Regions from separate parts of the Homo sapiens genome. Here region 1 is reported to be linked to region 2. The links are microRNA targets in miRTarBase. Many come from high-throughput screens and were not tested one by one. Region 2 holds a microRNA gene; the other region holds the end of a gene's coding sequence. Distances are from middle to middle.
The links. The annotated mature microRNA hsa-miR-1228-5p reads GUGGGCGGGGGCAGGUGUGUG and lies in region 2 at 1,330-1,350, opposite strand. An mRNA with a match to its seed (bases 2 to 7 or 8) in the 3' UTR can be bound and repressed. Matches are read on the target gene's strand: a 7mer-m8 pairs with bases 2 to 8, a 7mer-A1 pairs with bases 2 to 7 and ends in A, and an 8mer does both.

Region 1: the mRNA of MDM2 is a reported target of hsa-miR-1228-5p. Seed matches in the 3' UTR shown: 7mer-m8 at 4,043-4,049.

What each region holds. Positions count from the first base shown.
Region 1 is chr12:68,839,286-68,844,433 of GRCh38, reverse strand. MDM2 (MDM2 proto-oncogene) reads right to left here. Exons shown (of 11, transcript NM_002392.6): 11 at 1-5,148. The coding sequence ends at 4,585. It also overlaps a transcript of CPM not described here. Among named protein-coding and RNA genes, the nearest start is that of MDM2, 34 kb to the right of the region's middle.
Region 2 is chr12:57,190,681-57,195,853 of GRCh38, reverse strand. It overlaps MIR1228 (microRNA 1228), which reads right to left and starts at 1,350; the gene lies at 1,278-1,350. LRP1 (LDL receptor related protein 1) reads right to left here. Exons shown (of 89, transcript NM_002332.3): 43 at 4,845-5,049; 44 at 4,342-4,534; 45 at 2,884-3,009; 46 at 2,550-2,678; 47 at 2,169-2,288; 48 at 1,842-1,955; 49 at 1,351-1,500; 50 at 1,155-1,277; 51 at 753-869; 52 at 455-583; 53 at 74-196. RefSeq lists an enhancer at 2,795-3,294.

The DNA.
Region 1 (5,148 bases), 12 Mb from region 2:
ACAGGGAGAACACAGCATTTCTTACTCCTACTAACTTGCAACATCATTCTCTCAAGTTGCTCTCATTGGAGGCTCCCAACTGCTTCAAGCTGCCCAGTGATATTTGTATTTCTAAAGTGGGCAGGCATGGCCATTCCAGAAAAAGAAACACATTCAGACTTGTGCCTTTTGTTACCCAAATATATGATATTCAAATAATTTCTATTTTAACAACTCATAAAAATTTAAGATCAAATAATTGCATTCTTGAAACAATTCTTAATCATTTATTTTCAACACGTGTACTATAAAGAACCTAAGAAATCAGACAATTTTAATAACCCATAAACATGTTGAATCCATTTGCAGATTTAAATTTTGTAAAAATAGCTGTCACTGCCTCCATATATCAAGTGTACTATGTTTATAATCACATTTATGCTACCGATACTCCTCAGAAAAAAACAGATTCTGCTTGGTTCTAGCTTCAGTATTATGAACTCCAATAATGCTTTGAGGACCTCCAAAGGAAAAAAACAGATTCTACTAGGTTCTAGCTGAAATATTATCAACTCCAAATTGAAGCTGAAGTATTATCAACTCCAAATAATGCTTCGAGGACCTCCAAAAAAAAGAGATTCTGCTTGGTTGTAGCTGAAGTATTATCAACTCCAAATAATGCTTGGAGGACCTCCACAGGTAAACTACTAATCCCTTTGGCCATTTATTGAGACAGACAGAGAGAGAGAGAGAGAGTTTTGAAGCAACAATGTACCATTAGTAAAGTTGCTGTGCAGAATTACCTCAGTCCTATTCTAAGCTTACAGTTCAGTTGATTTTATTGTCTTCACCTAAGTATATACAATTCACATATGGGAGAAAAACACTAAATCAAGATGGTTATTTTCACTGTTTTGCTTAAGATTCATATTTAAATATAAATCAAGAAGTTAATCCACAGTTTGAGAGATACTTATATTAGAAATTTTAAATGTTAAATACATAATTGTAAATATGGTGTATGTACTGTTTCACATACAATGGGTATTGATCAAATCAGTGTAATTAGCACACCCATCAGCTCAAATATCATTTATTTGTAGCAAGAACATTCAATACATTAACTATAGTCACCCTACTCTCTCTCTCTCTCTCTCTCAATAAATGGCCAAAGGGATTAGTACTTTTACCTTTGGAGGTCCTCAAAGCATTATTTGGAGTTCATAATACTTCAGCTAGAACTTATTCCTTCAAATTTAACTCTGTACCCATTAAAAGTGGTTTTGTGTGCAATTAACAGACACATGTTCTACCCATACATTGTTTTCCAAAATTATTGTGTGGCTTTAAAAAAAAAAAAACCCACACAACAAATTGCAAAAGGCACTGAGATAACATCTGCTTCTAGATCATTGCTAGGCTCGAAAAATAAAGCTTGTTCTACCAGGAATGACAAGTTAGAACTTAGTATTTGCCAAAGCAGAAATTATATAGTGTCAGTTATTTCAGGCAAACCTTATTCGGCTCTCATCCCCAACTATCTGTCAGAACAATTAAAAGAGATCAAAACAGTCCAGCATAACTAGGCTTCATTATATAAGGCCATTTTGTTCTAAGACACTAATAAACCAAAATAAGAAATATTAAAATCAAAATAAAAGATATTATTTGAGCTATTTTCATACAAACTGTTGGTTCCTTATATCCTCCCTTCTATAATAAAGGGCATATTTTACTGCAAAGAAAATTTTACTTTATATATATCACTAGCCATAAATTTTTGAATGTCATTAATTACATGTTGTCTAGTACCATTAACCAAATAGCGTAACTATTTTATGTCCACATTTCACTTCTGTATTTACAAACATATCAGTAAAGAGTTAACAATGAGATGCGATCAAACATCCATATTATCTGTTTTGTAGACAGCAATGTAGATGATTTTGTAATCACCTTTCATCGGAGTGACCTTATATAAAAAATAAGTCAATAATTTAGAGGTTCTAAGTCTCCAAAGGAGATTTTCAAATGTAAATATAGAAATGGTTATAGATAATGAGATTTTTAGGAAACCTCTGCCATGTCTGCATCCTGTTAACTGTTATATCATCTTTTCTTCCAGCTGCGTTCCTTTGCCTGCAACAGGGGTCAAGATGAGTTTTGCCTGACTTCTTTGATGTCCTGAACTTTCCGTAGTCCTTTTTCTTGAATTTGTTCATTATAAATATAGCTTGGCATTTGTTTGATCTTTTCAACTGTCTTCACTGCATCAGTAGTTTTATTCCATAGTTCTTGCAGATATTTGACAGGCTTGTTACTATATTTTTCAAATTCAAATCCACTGTAAGCTCATTATTAGCAGTTGCTTTACAGAATGCTTTAGTCCACCTAACCTTTTGAGAATTGCACTTCTTTTAAAGTTTTTGTGACATTTATGTTTATACAATCTGAACACCTTGCAACAGCTGCAGATGAACATCATGATGTGGTCAGGGTAGATGGGTCCCAAAGAAACTAACACTTCTCAGTGCTGAGCTCGGATGGGCCTCCACTGACCAAACACGGAGCTTGAGAGGAAGTCAAGAGGTATCTTGGAATTCCACATGCTGACCCTGTCATTCTTGAAGGAAAATGATGCATAATTTCTGAATAATTCAGAAAGAACTTAACAATCTTTCCAGTTAGTTTTTAAATAACAATTCTGTTTATCAAATTTCTGAATTAACTTTTCTGAATTCACGGGTTTCTAAAACTGGCCTTAAGCAAAAGTCTGAAACCTAGGCTGGGAACCATGTAACCCAGGCCAAGAAGGTACTTTAAAGTGTCTTAGAGTTGTTTTTCAACTTAGGGGGAAACAACAGATTCCATTAAATCCCATAAAGGATTTTTTTGTGTGTGAAAAAGGGCCTGATGTAATCTAGGTTAGACTCAGGAGGCTTTAACAAGTTTTGTCTTACGGGTAAATGGTGGCTATTTTCACAGATAACATCATTACTCCCATCCCTTACTATGGTTTATACAAAAGAGGCTGGAGAATAAGTACATTTTTACAGCCGGGTGTGGTGGCTAACGCCTGTAATCCTACTTAGCACTTTGCGAGGCCAAGACAGGAGGATCTCTTGAGCCCAGGAGTTCGAGACCAGCCTGGGCAACACAGGGAGACCCTGTCTCTATTGTTAAATCAAGAAAACCTAAAAAACATTTTCATTTACATAGCACCAAATATAAGAGCCTTTTTTTTTTTAACCTAGAAAGAGTATTTTGGAGAGAGAAACTAAGGATCAGAAGGTTTAAGAGTATCAAAAATCTGAGGCCAGGTGCCTCACATCTGTAATCCCAGCATTTTGGGAGGCTGAGGTGAGTAGATCACTTGAGTTTAGGAGTTCAAGATCAGCCTGGCTAACATGGTGAAACCCTGTCTTTACTAAAAATACAAAAAAATCAGCTGGTATGGTGGTACATGCCTGTAATCCCAGTTACTTGGAAGGCTGAGGCAGGAGAATAGCTTGAACCCAGAAGGCGGAAGTTGCAGTGAGCCGAGATCACTCCACTGCACTCTAGCATGGGTGATGGAGCAAGACTCTGTCTCAAAAAAAAAAAAAAAAAAAAAAAAAAAGAGTATCTAAAATTTAAATACTAATTCTTGGCTGGACATGGTGGCTCACATCTGCAATCCCAGCACTTCGGGAGGCCGAGGCGGGTGACCTCACTTGAGGTCAGGAGTTCGTGACCAGCCTGGCCAACATGGTGAAACCCTATCTCTACTAAAAATACAAAAATTAGCTGGGCATGGTGGTGCATGCCTGTAATCCCAGCTGCTCCAGAGGCTGAGCCAGGAGAATGGCTTGAACCCGGGAAGCGGAGACTGCTAGATCATGACACTGCACTCCAGCCTGGGCGACAGAGAGACTCATCTCAAAACAAACAAACAAACAAACAAACAAAAAAACAAAAAACTAAATCTTTCACACATTTTCTCTTTATATCAAAGGTACTAAGTGACATTTAGGCCGGACGCGGTGGCTCATGCCTGTAATCCCAGCACTTTGGGAGGCCGAGGTGGGCGGATCACGAGGTCAGGAGATCGAGACCATCCTGGCTAACACGGTGAAACCCTGTCTCTACTAAAAGTACAAAAAATTAGCCAGGTGTGGTGGCAGATGACTGTAGGCCAAGCTAATTGGGAGGCTGAGGCAGGAGAATGGTGCGAACCCGGGAGGCAGAGCTTGCAGTGAGCCAAGATCACGCCACTGCACTCCAGCCTGGGTAACAGAGCAAGACTCGGTCTCAAAAAAAATAATAAGTTACATTTAAATGTCATATACATATTTAAGAAAAAAAAAAACCAAGTACTTCTCATTTAAGACAGAGTAGAAATTATTTAAAATTAGGAGTTGGTGTAAAGGATGAGCTACATATTCAAGTCAAATTATAGTAAGTATTCACTATTCCACTACCAAAGTAGGTCAATTATACTAAAGAGAAGAAATCTATGTGAATTGAGGCATTTTCTCACTTTGATATATGTGAATAAATTTCAGGTTGTCTAAATTCCTAGGGTTATATAGTTAGAAATATATAATTCTCTTATAGACAGGTCAACTAGGGGAAATAAGTTAGCACAATCATTTGAATTGGTTGTCTACATACTGGGCAGGGCTTATTCCTTTTCTTTAGCTTCTTTGCACATGTAAAGCAGGCCATAAGATGTCCTGTTTTGCCATGGACAATGCAACCATTTTTAGGTCGACCTTGACAAATCACACAAGGTTCAATGGCATTAAGGGGCAAACTAGATTCCACACTCTCTTCTTTGTCTTGGGTTTCTTCCCTTTCAAACTCTTTCACATCTTCTTGGCTGCTATAAATAATGCTACTAGAAGTTGATGGCTGAGAATAGTCTTCACTTTCTTGTGATTGTGAAGCTTGTGTAATTTTATCATCATTTTCCTCAACACATGACTCTCTGGAATCATTCACTATAGTTTTTTTACAATCAGGAACATCAAAGCCCTCTTCAGCTTGTGTTGAGTTTTCCAGTTTGGCTTTCTCAGAGATTTCCCCTTTATCTTTCCCTTTATCTTCAGGAAGCCAATTCTCACGAAGGGCCCAACATCTGTTGCAATGTGATGGAAGGGGGGGATTCATTTCATTGCATGAAGTGCA
Region 2 (5,173 bases):
GAATGGACCTGTGAGGCTGATGCCCTGGCCCGGCAGAGGGCAGGGCCTCCTCCCACCACCGCCGAAGGCTCACCACACTCGGGGGACTCATCAGAGCCATCTGCACAGTCACGGTCGTGGTCACACACGAAGTGCTTGGGGATGCACTGGCGGTTCTGGCACATGAACTCACGGTCGTCACAAGTGCTGTTGTACACTGTGGACAGAGGTGGACACAGCCCTTCAGCCCTGCCTGGCCAGCGGCCGACCGTCCCTCACTCTAACCTCCTGTGGTTCTCCTGGTAGAGTGGGCAGGGCACTGGATGAGGAGTCTGGACACCTGGGCTACAGCTATGGCTCCGCCCCCAGTGGACCCCGCTGAGGCATTTCCTCTCCTGCACCCCGGCTTCCCCATCTGCAAAGTGAGACTGTGGCCATTTGCTGTCCACCCGCTCCACGTGGCCCCGCCACTCACAGCAACCAGCTGCGATGCTCTCGTCTGCACCATCAGCACAGTCTTTGTCACCGTCACAGAGCCAGCGCTCGGGGACGCACACGTGGGTGCCAGGGCAGGAGAAGGAGGAGGGGCCGCACGTCTTGCCTTCTGTAGGGGGAGAGAGGGCCACTGAGAGACTTAGGAGCGGGTAGATCAGGTCTAGCAGTGGAGGTGATGGTTCGCCGTCGTCTGCAGGGGTGTCTGTGTGTGGGGTGGAGTTGGGTGGGGTCTGTCCCTCCCTGGGGCACCTCCCCCGGCCCAATCCCAGCTTCCTTACCACAGTGAGCAGCCTCGTCTGAGCCATCCCCACAGTCATCGCTGCCGTCACACAGCCACTGCTTGGAGATGCAGCGATGGTTCTGGCACTCAAACTGGGCCTCTGAGCAGAACTTGTCTGGGGCAGTCAGAAGCCACAGTTAGATGGGGAAGGGTGGGGGTCACCCACCTGGGGAGGCTGATGCCATGGGAAGGACAGGAGAGATGCCCACAGCACCCCTCTGTGGGGGGGCTCAGCAGCAGCTAGAGGCAGAGTCTCTGAGTCTGACCTCAAGAGTTGGGGTGTGGGGCAGGGGGTTGAAGGCTCTGGATGCCCTTTTCCAAGGGGGCATTTGCTGGGGGGGACTAAGAAGTGGGGCCCAGCAGGCTCTTGGAGCACTGAGTGGGTGCAGTGGTCACTCACTGCAGTGGGTCTCGTCCTCGCCATGTTCACAGTCATCCTCTTTGTCACACGTCCAGCTCATGGGGATGCAGCGCCCACTAGGGCAGGCGAAGTAATTCAGAGGGCATCTGGGGCGTTTCACACCTGGGGGGCGAGGCAGGTGTGAGGGCCCTGCTCACCGCAGGCCACCACCCACCACACACCTGCCCCCGCCCACCTGGGCAGTCGCGCTCATCACTGTAGTCCCCACAGTCATTGGCGCCATCACACACCCAGCTGGGTGCGTAGCAGAGTGAGGTCCGCTCGCAGGGCTGGAAGAGCACGCCCTTCACGCCCAGGCGGAAGTAGCTGCTGCAGTCGGTGGCACCTGGTGGGGGCAGGGGTGAGGGTGATACCTGGTTCCCCCTGGATCACCCCCGACTGGGGCAGCTGCCAGCCCTATGGAGCCTTCATGTGTTTCCAAAAGTTGAACGGTGCCCTTCTGGTGGGGCACTGTCTGCACCATCTGCTCACTGCCCCCTCTCGGAACCCCACGAGAGCCCAGGAGCAGGAGCGGGATGGGGACAGGGCCTCAGGGAGATGGAGGCTGTCAGCGGGGATGAGGGAAGGCAGAGAGGAATGTGGGCAGGTGCAGGAGGGCCTGAAGGCGGGAGATGCAGTGAGCGATGGGGAGGAGCCCAGGAGGTGCCAGCAAAGGGCGTCACTCACTGCAGTTCATCTCATCTGAGGCGTCCTCACAATCCACAAACTGGTTGCAGCGGCTGGAGTTCCCGATGCAGGTCCCGTCCCGGCAGCGGAACTCGCCCACACCACAGGCTGTCTCTAGAACAGTGCCCGCCCCGTATCGTCAGGCCAGAGTTTTCTCTGTGGGGGCCAGAAGGACGCAGGACAGAGCTCCTGGCCCACAGCACCTGCCCTGGCCTGTCACAGAGTGCCTTGAACCAGACACCACGGGGCCCAGGGACAAAGCTTGGCCAGGGAGGGGTGGGGCAGGAACTGAGGTACAGATGGGTTATGCCAGTGCGCCTCACTCACTGTTGCAAGGGATCTCGTCAGAGCCATCCCCACAGTCGTCGGCCCCGTTGCACCACAGCATGTTGGACACACAGCGCCCATTGCTGCACTGCCGGAAAGTCTTCTTGCAGCGGCGGGAGTCTGCAAATGGAGGAGTAGGCTGCGTGTCAGCCACAGGCACAGGGAAAGGGCTGCCTCCCTGAGACGTCATGCACGTGTCCAGCTGGCCACCCCCAAACCCAAAGGCCCAGTCCAGGCTAACAGTGGTTCTGCCCTTCATGAGCTCCCAAAACTCATGGTCAGGAAGCTGGGTCCTGATCCTGCTCCATCCTGCAGGGGCCTGGGGGAGGAGGACCTGGGCTCTGGGCCTGGAAGAGGCAGGGGCTGCAGGGGGCTCCTTACTGCAGTAGGATGGCTTCTCATCGGACTTGTCCTTGCAGTGGGGGACGCCGTCGCAGGTCAGGCTGAAGTTGATGCACTCGCCATTGGCACACTCAAACTCATCTTGTGCTCGGCAAGAGGAATTCACCGCTGGGGAGGGAGGTGGAGGGAGCTTTCTGAGCCAGCGCTGTGGGCCCCAGTGCCCACGCCTCCTCCCCCGGGGAGCTGAGGTCATCATCAGCGTCTTCTTGGCAAAAGGCTTTGGGGGGCTGGGCTGGAGCATGTAGGGGAGATGGTCACCATCCCTGGTGTGTGCTTGGGTTCCCCGCCAGCCCCTCCCCCCCGCCTCTCTCACCTCGGCAGGTGAGGTCATCCTGGAGGATTCGGCCCCCTCGGCATGAGCAGTTGACATGGCCCTGGTGAGTGAGCAGACACAGGTCCTGGCAGCCACCGTTGTTGATTCGGCATGGAGAGAGTTCACCTGAGCAGGGACAGGGTGGGCGCAGGGCTGGAGAGTGTTCTCTGCTGTGCATGCACCCAGAGTGCACCCACCCATTCACTGACTTCATGGAGCTCCCAAGCCTCTGCTCAGTCACGGCAGGCACAGCGGCTTGCAGCCAGTGGGGAGGGCATGGGGATGGCTGCTGTGGGAGGGCCAGGTGCATGGGGTTTTCGGCAGGTGTGCCGTTGAGGATGTGTGTGCTTTTAGGCAGGGCACCGTGGGCTTTGAGGAGTGTTTCTGAGAGATTCGAGTCTGAGGGCCCTGAGATCACGGGTGCAGTAGTGAGCCCCAGGGCGCATGGGAGACACCTGGGAAAGCTGCAGGTCTGTGGTGGGGGGCGCTGGGGCATGTACTCGTGCCCACTGAGGGCACGTGCACCCAGGCTCTCGGCTGTCTGTGTGGCTCCAAGTGAGGAGAGTGACCAGGGTGAGGGTAGGGGCACCGAGGGCATGGATGAGCCCTGAGGGGCGGGTGTGACATGAATGTGTGTGTGCAACGTGGAGGAGATGCCAGGCGTGTGCAGAGTCCATCTGTGTGCGTAGATGCCTTGGTGGGAAGGGGTACAGGAGCACTGGGGGTTTTGCGGTTCCAAAGGTGTGTACAGCTGTGTGTGTCTGTGTAATGGAGGCCCAGGGAGAGCAGGACCAGGCAAGTGTGTGTGGGGTGTGGTGTGTGGGGTGTGGGGTGTTTATAGTATGTCTGTGAGATGTGTGTGTGTGTGTGTGGCATGTTTGTGGTACGTGTGGTGTGTGGTGTGTGTGTGTGCTGTGTGGTGTGTGTGTGATGTGTGTTGTGGGTGGTAGGTGTGTGGCATGTGTATGTGTGTCCTATGTGTGGTGTGTATGTGTCATGTGTGGTGTGTGTATGTGGTGTGTGTATGTGGTGTGTGTGTGGTATGTGTAGTGTGTGTGGTGGTGTGTGTATGTGGTATGTGTGGGGTGTGTGTGGTATGTGTGGTGTGTATGTGGTGTGTGGTGTGTGTGTGGTATGTGTGTGGTGTGGTATATGTGGGGTGTGCATGTGATATGTGTGGTGTGTGTATGTGGGGTGTGTATGTGTGTGTATGTGTTGGGGGTGTATGTGTATGTGGTGTGTGGGGGGTGTGTATGGTGTGGTGTGTATGTGTTGAGTGTGTGGGAGGGGTGTGGTGTGTGTATGTGGTGTGGTGTGTGTAGTGTAGTATGTGTGGGATGTGTGTGTGTGGTATGTGTAGGGTGCGTGTGGTATGTGCGATGTGTGTGTGGGGTGTGTGTTTGTATGTCCATGCACGACAGGCAGGAGGGTGAGGCAGCTGGCGGCAGCCCCACTCACAGCTGTTGGTGTCGTTGGCCACGGCGATGATGCCCATGGGCTGCTGGGGGATGTCCACGCGCAGCAGCTTCATGTTGCTGCCCACGTGCTTGTTGGCCCGCTGCACTGCCCGCCGCACCCAGTCAGTCCAGAAAATGTGCTCCCCATACACGGCCAGCCCGAAGGGGTGGACAGGCTCTGACTTTAGGATCACCTGTGGAGACAGCACCATCACCGTCACAGCATCGCTCAGGCCTCTTGCCCAGTCTCCACCGGACCACAGCCTGGCCTGGCCTCTGACAGCTACAGAATGAGGGCCCGCAGAGGCATCCTGCTATCTCCCTCGTCTAGCTGATGAGGAGCAAGCTGGACAGGGTGGGGTTGACCGAGGCTGGGGCCTGGAGGCACTCACCTCCTCCCAGCTGTTCCCACCATGTCTGTGCCTGGACGGTCTTGGTTGACGGCTGACCCTGGCCCTGGCCTCCCCTCAGCCGCCCGCCAGCTCACCCACCCCGCAGACTCACATAGCGGTGGGAGCCGTCATACTCGCACCGCTCGATCTTGTCCAGGGTGGCGTCAGAGAAGTAGAGCTTCTCGGCACGGTGGTCGATGGCCAGGCCATTGGGGGTACGGATGTCCTTCTCGATAAGGGTCAGGACATTGGCTCCCGAGAGCGCCGCCCGCATGATGCTGGGATGCTGCTCATTCCAGTTGGTCCAGAACATGAGGCTGGGGGAAGAGGGTCCAGAGATCAGGAGGCAAAGCCTGAGAATCCACAACAGAGGGCACAGGCCAGGACGCGTAGGCACCTGGAACCTGGAAGCCTGCCAGGGCAAAGCCACCCCAGAGCCAT